Linked DNA regions of Homo sapiens: region 2 is linked to region 1. The links come from fine-mapping of genetic effects on gene expression. A gene starts in region 1. The other region holds a variant in brackets. All regions are shown on one strand. Distances are between the middles of the regions.

What was found. PIP is the estimated chance that this variant, and not a neighbour inherited with it, causes the effect. A credible set is the group of variants that fine-mapping cannot tell apart.
Region 2: its variant is the best candidate, but not a certain one, in a credible set for the expression of ZNF8-DT in whole blood (INTERVAL, PIP 0.87).

What each region holds. Positions count from the first base shown.
Region 1 is chr19:58,276,333-58,280,716 of GRCh38, reverse strand. It overlaps ZNF8-DT (ZNF8 divergent transcript), which reads left to right and starts at 1,975. Exons shown (of 3, transcript NR_187495.1): 1 at 1,975-2,194. It overlaps ZNF8 (zinc finger protein 8), which reads right to left and starts at 1,762. Exons shown (of 4, transcript NM_021089.3): 1 at 1,570-1,762. The coding sequence starts at 1,635. It overlaps ZNF8-ERVK3-1 (ZNF8-ERVK3-1 readthrough (NMD candidate)), which reads right to left and starts at 1,751. Exons shown (of 7, transcript NR_144447.1): 1 at 108-1,751. It also overlaps a transcript of ZNF544 not described here. RefSeq lists enhancers at 1,167-1,216, 1,637-1,686.
Region 2 is chr19:58,237,325-58,241,708 of GRCh38, reverse strand. All of the region lies in intron 3 of ZNF544 (zinc finger protein 544), which reads right to left. Among named protein-coding and RNA genes, the nearest start is that of ZNF544, 11 kb to the right of the region's middle. The variant G/TG (reference allele first, on the strand shown) is at 1,811.

The DNA of each region.
Region 1 (4,384 bases):
CCGATTTCAGACTTCTGACCTCCAGAACCTAAGAACAAATGTTTTAAGCCACAAAATTTGTAGTGAATTGTTACAGCAGACACAGATAACCAGATAAAACACTGGACCTTGAAGCTCTCCATTCTGGTCCTTGTCTCCTGTGATGGACAGTCTCCAAGATGCTCCCCCACCACCTCTGCCAATGACCTCCAGCCCTGGTGTGGTCCCCTCCAACACTCAACAAGGTTGACTTTGTAACCAGTAAGACACCGTGGAAGTGACAAGAGTGTGAATTCTGAATCCAGGTCATGGAAGGTGTTACAGTTTCTACCTTGCCCTCTCCTGGATCACTTGTTCTGTGGGAAGCCAGATGCCATGTTGCAAGGATCCCTAGCAGTTCCAAAGAGAGGCCTACATGGAGAACAACTGAGGTCTCCTATCAACAGACATGTGAGTGAGCCATCCTGGAGGTGGATCCTCCAGACTCAGGTCTCAGGTGACAACAGCTATGCTGACATCTTCACTGTAACTTCATGGGCCTGAACCAGAACCACCAGCTAGGACATTCCATTACTCCTGTCAGAACTCGTGAGATATTTATTGTTGTTCCAGGTCACGAAGTTTTGAGTTACACAGCAACAGGTAACTAATACACTTTCTCTCAAGCCTTTCTTACGACTCATTCCTTGTCCCCCATCCACAGCAAGAACAAAATAAAACGTGGTAGCATTTCATGCAAATTTGGAGCAACACACATCTGAAAACCTGCAACCTAAGATTATCAAGTCTCACTTTGTGTACCAAATCTGAAATAATGCAAATCCCCATGAACAAACCAACGACAAAAAATAAAAAAAAGTATAATTTCAAAGTTGCAGAGCTTGAGGAAGGATAATTATTGTTGTTTCCTGCCACGCGAGGCAGCTTTATGGAGAACACAGGCCGCAACCACTTTGTCTAGAAAGTGGAGCTCTGATGGCCAGATGGCCCTGCAAACACTGACCGCCCTGCACTGCAGTTCTCCCACAGTCTCGCAGGGGACGACCCTGGTGGTCACTCTCATCACACTCAGTGCGTGGTGACCCATCATTGCCCCCAAGAGGTTGTGCCCAAGCCCCAGGGCAGGGGCTCCGCGGTGCTGGGGTCCCGGTGGGTGTCCGCTGACTCCACGCGTTAAAGCATCTCTATTCGATGATTCTTGCCATCTGGGCACCCGGCCAACGCTACAATTACTGTTATCAGTCAACACGAGGACAGACCTTCCTGGAATGGGCAAGGGTGTCGGCGGGGCGGAGCAGAACGCAGGAGATGGGCCTGCTCGATTCTCTCGGGAATGACCGACCCCAGCCCTGGGGAGGACAGAGCCGCGTGGAGCATGCGCATTCGGGGGCCAGGCGCCTGGTTGGAATCCCGGCCCCCTCTCTGACCAGCCAGGACGGTCACCACGCCCCGACCCGCGTCTGAGTTTCCCCACGTGTCAAGGGCATTAACAGCGGTGCCGCTCTCATCGCGCCGCGAGGTGAAAGGGTCAGTCTGCGCGGGAGACGCTTGCCCGGAGCCCGCCGCCGTCGTTATTGTTGTTATTGTTACCTGAAGCCGGGCCGCCGGCGGCCCCACAGACATCACTCCCGCTACCCCTTCGTCCTCGGGGTCCATGCTGGATCGCCCAGTGAAGGACAGCGCCTGAGGTGATCCCCAGACCAGAGAGGCACTCCAGCCAAAGGGACCACCCGACTCGCCGAACGCCGGACAATGGCGGCCGCACCGGCGACGCGGCGACTACAACTCCCAGTAGGCCGTGCGGCGAACCACAGCCCTCGGCCAATGGGAGTCTCCGCTGGTCTGGCCTTCGACCAATGGAAGCATTATGGCCGATGGCCAATGGGAGCCCCCACCCGCTGGCCTCTGGCCAATGGGAGCACTCAGCTAAGGCTGGTGGGGGCGGTGTTGCTCGGGGCTGCGATGCCCCTTAGGTTGCGGGCAACCAGAGGCCTCACTCGTGGGCAGGAAGCAAGGGCGGACCCCGAGAGATGACTGATTGTGGGGGTGGGGACCGTCTGCTCCTCCTAATGGCTGGGGACCGTGCACGTCTGCGCGGGCCGGACCTGCTCTTCTCGGGAACTTGCGCGGGAGGAGGCCCGGAGCTGCGCCGCTTTACCCTCTGCTCCCCGGTGCCTAAAACGCACACGCATCAAAGTCACAGGACGAGTTAGAGGTTTGTTCATATAAAAGACTTTGGGCTTAGCGGCTGGAAGCGGGGAGGCTGGGAGCGGTGGTTGTGTTACAGGAAAGGGGTCCGATTCAGACCCCAAGGGAGGGTTCTTGGATCTCGCGCAAGAAAAAATTCAGGGCGAGTCCGCAGTGCAAAGTAAAAGCAAGTTTGTTGAGAAAGTAAAGTTGTGAAACAGCTACCCCATAGACAGTAGGACGTTCCTGAAAGTAAGAGGAACGTATGCACCCTAGGTACAATGCTTGTGTATATTTGGGCTAAAAATAGATTTTGGGGAGATGTGCTCTGCTACAAGGGTTTGTGAAAAAGGATTAATTTTCTTACTGTATTTTTCAAGAATCGATATTATTTTTAAAGCAAAATTAGGAATGCCTTTGTTCTCTAGATACCGGGATATCTGGACACTCCCAAGTCTGGGTCTGTTTTAGTACCCATTATTAATTTGTTCCCTTAACCGTAAACATCTAGAGGTTAGGAATACCTACTTTTCTGGGAATGCAGCCCAGCCTCATTTTCCTAGCCCTCACTCAAAATGGAGTCGCTCTGGGTCGAATGCCTCTGACAGCCCTATTGCTTCTCCCTGTGGGTGTTCACTTTGTGATGTGTCTTTTTCTGTGGGTCTGTTGTAGTCCATTAAAATGTTTATTAAAGGTCGGGCGCGGTGGCTAACGCCTATAATCCCAGCACTTTGGGAAGTCGAGGCGGGTGGATCACGATGTCAGGAGCTCGAGACCAACCTGGCCAATATGGTGAAACCCCGTCTCTACTAAAAATACAAAAATTAGCCCGGCGTGGTGGCGGGCACCTGTAGTCCCAGCTTCTCGGGAGGCTGAGGCAGGAGAATCGCTTGAACCTGGGAGGCGGAGGTTGCCGTGAGCCGAGGTCAGGCCACTGCACTCCAGCCTGGGTGACAGAGCAAGACTCCGTCTCAAAAAAAAAATAAAAAGTTATTAAAAAAGAAAAATGGGGAAGCAGATTTCCATTCAAAAATGTTGCATTCAAACCACAACAATTTTTAACTTTTTTAAATTTTACCAAGAGCCAGACACATAGCAGGGAACAGTATAGTTACTTGTTATTTGCTCACCCCCATGGGGCTGATGGTGTAGTCTGAGGGACTGAAGATCAACCATGACATGGCCCTTCACACCGTGTTGAAGGGGTGAAGACGTTACCAGTGGGGACGGAGGAGCTGACTCCCGAGGGGCTCAAGCTGGCCACACTCTCTCAGATCCTTCTGGCCGACTCCTGAGGGCTCAAGCTGGCCACACTCTCTCAGATCCTTCTGGCCCTGTACCGTCTCTGCTTTTTGCTGGGCCTCGTTCCTGAGAAGGAGCAGGTGTTAGGCAAGTTACACAAAATTATGAGAGGACATGGTTTTGGACTGAGCTCCTGCTCTAGGCCTCATGAGACCAGACCAAACCAAGACAGAGTCACTTAGGCTAAATGCCACATAATCAGACTGATACTTTAAGCAGGTAGATCCCTAAACAAACCAGATTTCCAGTCTACCTGAGCAGCATAATAAGGAAGTCCCCTCTGCTTTAATCCTTACAAGAAAAGTAACCTAGTGTTAACTAATTAGCCTTTTCTCTATCTTACAAAAACCACTATTCTACCATTTGCCCCGTGGGAGCTCTCATTCCGTTTTGCAGAGTGGAGGCTGCCCAGATTCATGAATCACAAATAAAAGCCAATTCGATCTTTAACCAAATTTGTTAAAATTCTGTCTTTTGGCTGGGTGTGGTGGCTCACGCCTGTGAGTGAATCCCAGCACTTTGGGAGGCTGAGGTGGGTGGATCACCTGAGGTCAGGAGTTTGAGACCACCCTGGCCAACATGGTGAAACCTTGTCTCTAATACAAATACAAAAATTAGCCAGGTGTGGTGGCGGGCACCTGTAATCCCAGATACTCAGGAGGCTGAGGCAGGAGAATCGCTTGAAACTGGGAGGCGGAGGTTGCGATTAGCTGAGATTGCGCCACTGCACTCCAGCCTGGGCGACAGAGTGAGACTCCATCTCAAAAATAAAATAAAATAAAAATAAAATTCTGACTTTTGACAGATGTCTTCACTCACCTGAGCAAGTGGCAGCTGCTGTGGGAACTGGATCAGGCAGCCTTCCAGGAGACTAAATCTGTCTTCTATTGGGAGTCCCAAAAAGCTCCCAGGCAGC
Region 2 (4,384 bases), 39 kb after region 1:
TGGCTAACACGGTGAAACCCTGTCTCTACTAAAAAATACAAAAAAATTAGCCGGTGTGGTGGCGGGCGCCTGTAGTCCCAGCTACTCAGGAGGCCGAAGCAGGAAAATAGCGTGAACCCAGGAGGCGGAGCTTGCAGTGAGCTGAGATCGCACTACTGCACTCCAGCCTGGGTGACAGAGCGAGACTCCACCTCAAAAAAAAAAAAAAAGAAATGGAATGTGAATGATTAGAATTGCTATCAGATGACAAGTTTGGGGAGGAGGCATTCACACCCTACCAAAAAAGGTTTAAAGTATAACATAAGTTATGACAAAATATTCAACTTGCAAGACAGAGTTGGTGTATGTACACATTTACCTGACTCCCAACATTAAACTTACTCAAAAGAACAAAGTGGGCCAGGCACATTGGCTCACGCCTGTAATCCCAACATTTTGGGAGGCCAAGGCGGAAGCATCGTTTGAGCCCAGGAGTTCGAGAACTGCCTGGGCAACACAGTGAGACCCTATCTCTACAAAAAAAAAAAAATATATATATATATATATTTAAATATATATATATATTTTAAATTGGCTGGCCATGGTGGTGCATGCCTGTGGTCCCAAGTTCTTGAGAGACTGAGGCAGGATGATTGCTTGAGCCCAGGAGGTTGAGATTGCAGTGAGTAGTGATCGTGCCACCACACTCCAGCCTCGGTGACAGAATGAGACCCTGTCTCAAACAACAACAATAACAAAAAGAAAAGAAAAGAGAAGGAGAAAGAGAAACAGAAGGAGAAAAAGAAAAAGAAAAAAATGACCCCTACCCCAAAAAGGTAAATGCTAAACCCATCATTCCATGATACTGGAATGTTCACACTGCCACATCACACACACATTACAGGGAATGTGCAGGGCTGGTTTAGTAAGCCTGGGTTGTCCACACCCTGTACTTTCTTTTTTTTTTTGAGATGGAGTTTCACTCTGTTGCCCAGGCTGGAGTGTGGTAGCACGATCTCAGCTCACTGCAACCTCCGCCTCCCAGGTTCAAGCGATTCTCCTGCCTCAGCCTCTTGAGTAGCTGGGATCACAGGCGCGCATCACAATGCCCAGCTAATTTTTGTATTTTTTAAGCAGAAGCGGGGTTTCAGGATGTTGTCCAGGCTGGTCTCAAACTCCTGACCTCAAGTCATGCCTATAATCCCAGCACTTTGGGAGGCTGAGGTGTGCAGATCACGAGGTCAGGAGATAGAGACCATCCTGGCTAACATGATGAAACCCCATCTCTACTAAAAATACAAAAAATTAGACGGGCGTGGTGGTGGGTGCCTGTAGTGCCAGCTACTCGGGAAGTTGAGGCAGGAGAATGGCGTGAACCCGGGAGGCGGAGCTTGCAGTGAGCAGAGATCAGGCCACTGCACTCCAGCCTGGGCGACAGAGCAAAACTCTGTCTCCAAAAAAAAAAAAAGAAAGAAAAAGAAAGGTCTGATCCTTGACTGGCTGTAACCTCTGAGCCCTTGGGATATCCCGCCTGTTAAAATGTCTCTGCCTGCCAGGGGCACTGGGCCATGGTGTATTAGGGGGATCTCTGGAGGGCCTGAGTAACCAAAGTAATTTATATAGGCTCCATGCCTACATAACACATCCCTCAATAAAGAAACCTAAGCACCAAGGCTTGGGTGAGCTTCCTGGTCCACATGGTCGTTTGGAGAATTAAGCACTGTCTACGCAACTCCACTGGGAGCTGAATGAGCTGAATGCTGGTCCTGGTCTCTCCCGGACTCCCGTTTACATGCGTGCCTTTGACCACTGTAATTTTTTTTTTTTTTTT[G/TG]AGATGGAGTCTTGCTCTGTTGCCCAGGCTGGAGTGTAGTGGCGCAATCTTGGGTCACTGCAACCTCAGTCTCCTGGGTTCAAGCGATTCTCCTGTCTCAGCCTCCCAAGTAACTGGGACTACAAGTGCAAGCCACCACACCTGGCTAATTTTTGTATTTTTAGTAAAGACGGGGTTTTACCATGTTGGCCAGGCTGGGCTCAAACTCCTGACCTCGGGCGATCCGCCCACCCCGGCCTCCCAAAGTGCTGGGATTATAGGCATGAGCCACCATGCCTGGCCTTGTAATTTTAATCTGTATCTTTTCAATGTACTAAACTGTAACTGTGAATATAAGAGCTTTTCAGAGTTCTGAGTCCATCTGGTCAACCTGAGAATGGTCTCAAGGACCCGCACACAGTGAACACCAGGCTTACTTAAAGAAACAGGCCTTCAGGAATTTCAAGAAAAGTGGGCCATTTCTTCACAGCAGAGGTCCTCAACTGGGGGCAGTTTTGCTTTCCGGGAACATTGGCCATGTTTGAAGACAGTTTCCAGAGTTTGGTGGGAGTGGAGGGGGGAAGAGGTGTAGAAGGGGACAGCTACTGGCTGCAATCTGGTGGGCAGAGGCCAGGAAGGTGTAAAACATTCTACAGCTCATGGGGCAGCCCTAGAGGATGATCTGGCCCCAAATGCTGACTGTGCTGAGCTGAGAAATGGCTTTACAGGGAGGAAGAACCTTGCGGGCAAGCCTGTGTCAGGCACAGGACTCTTAAGCCTGAGGCCAACCTCACACATCAGCAGATGTGAAGAAAACCTGCAGCCACAGAGCACCCAGCCCTGTTTATTTTCACCACCTTCTCTTCCTGAACGCGAAGGAGAACTCAGAGGCCAGTCAGGACACACTAACAGCAAATGCTGAACACTCTTGCCTCCCCTGCACAAGGAGAAGAAACTCACCCTGATGCCACCAAACCTGTGTCCTGTGTCCCCTCCCTGTTCTGCCTGTCCCTTTGCATGCTGATCAGGGCATTGTAATTTTTTTTTTTTTTTTACCGTGACTTAGTGGGTTGAATGATGGCCATATCCTAATCCCTACAACCTGTGAATATGTGACCCTACATGGAAAGGAAAGACCCACGTTGAGGATCTTTAGATGGGGAGACTGTTGGGGTCACCACAATGATCCCTACAATGAGGGAGGTGGGAGGACCAGAGACAGAGGAGGAGAAGTGACAACAACGGGAGGCTCCTGAGCCAGAAACCCACACCCACTCTGTACTGAGCGCACAGCAGACCCTCACGTACGCACTCCTCTGCCTGGAAGCCTGTGACATCGATGCTCACACGTGTACTGAGCAGTGAGAGGGGAAGTCCTTCCTGACGCCTCCTGCGTGCTCTCCTCACATTCAGCCAAAACCCTGTGTCCCCGTCTTCCAGGCACTATGCACCGCTCCACAAGCCTGCCCCATGCCTGGCTCAGCCACTGTTTCTTGTGCGGGTTACCACGGTGGGTTTGATGGGGTCCTGCCTTTGACTTTTCTCCTCTCTCCCAGGAAGCCGCAGGGACACCACAGAATGAAGCCTGTGTCACAGAACCCTGTGGAGTGCCAGCTTTTCGCTGCCCTTAGGAGAAAGCCCAAATTCCTCCACAATCTCCAGATATCCCTTCCCAGATTAAAAATCTCAGCCAGGCGTGGTAACTCACACCTGTAATCCCAGCACTCTGGGAGGCCAAGGCTGGTGGATCACCTGAGGTCAGGAGTTCAAGACCAGCCTGACCAACATGGTGAAACCCCGTCTCTACCAAAAATACAAAATTAGCCGGGCGTGGTGGTGCACGTCTGTAATCCCAGCTACTCAGGAGGCTGAGGCAGGAGAATCACTTGAACCCAGGAGGCAGAGGTTGCAGTGAGCTGAGATCGTGCCATTGCACTCCAGTCTGAGCAACAAGAGAAGTTTTAAAAATCTCCAGACACTCCCCACAGACCTTGTGACGTCTGTCAGTCTCATGGAACACCTTCCAGCTCCCCGGCCCCACAACACCCCACCTCCAGACGCATTTTCAGGCTTCTCTATCCTCGGGTGGCTCCGCACCTTGCTGCCTCCCCAGGCCCTGCCTCCATGCCGAATACTGGCCATGCCAACAAAGCTCCAGGCTTCTGGCACAGGTCACACACTGGGGTGTCTGCTGCACTCCAACAGCATTTAAGACACAAAAGGAAAATATGAGGAAGACAGGGAAGATAAAAAGCAGCTTGGAAGTCTCCATGGATGAGTGGGGAAAAAAAGCAAAAAGAAGGTGGGTGTGAGGGTCCTACCTGTAGCTGGAAGGGCCCCTCGGACCGCTGGCGGGGCAAGGGTCTGGCTCCGTCAGCCCGTGAGGTGAGCCGCCCTCCAGGCCAGGCTGTGCCTAACACTAGGCCCCAAGATGAAATCAGAGCCACAGCACTCGCAGAGGCTGCCAGGACCAGCAAGCTGCCGGCCTGGAGCGGCTCAGTGTCTTGTGGCCCCTGTAACCAATTTCCACAAAATTGTTGGCTTAAGATGAACAGAAGCTTGAGGCCAGGCGTGGTGGCTCATACCTGTAAACTC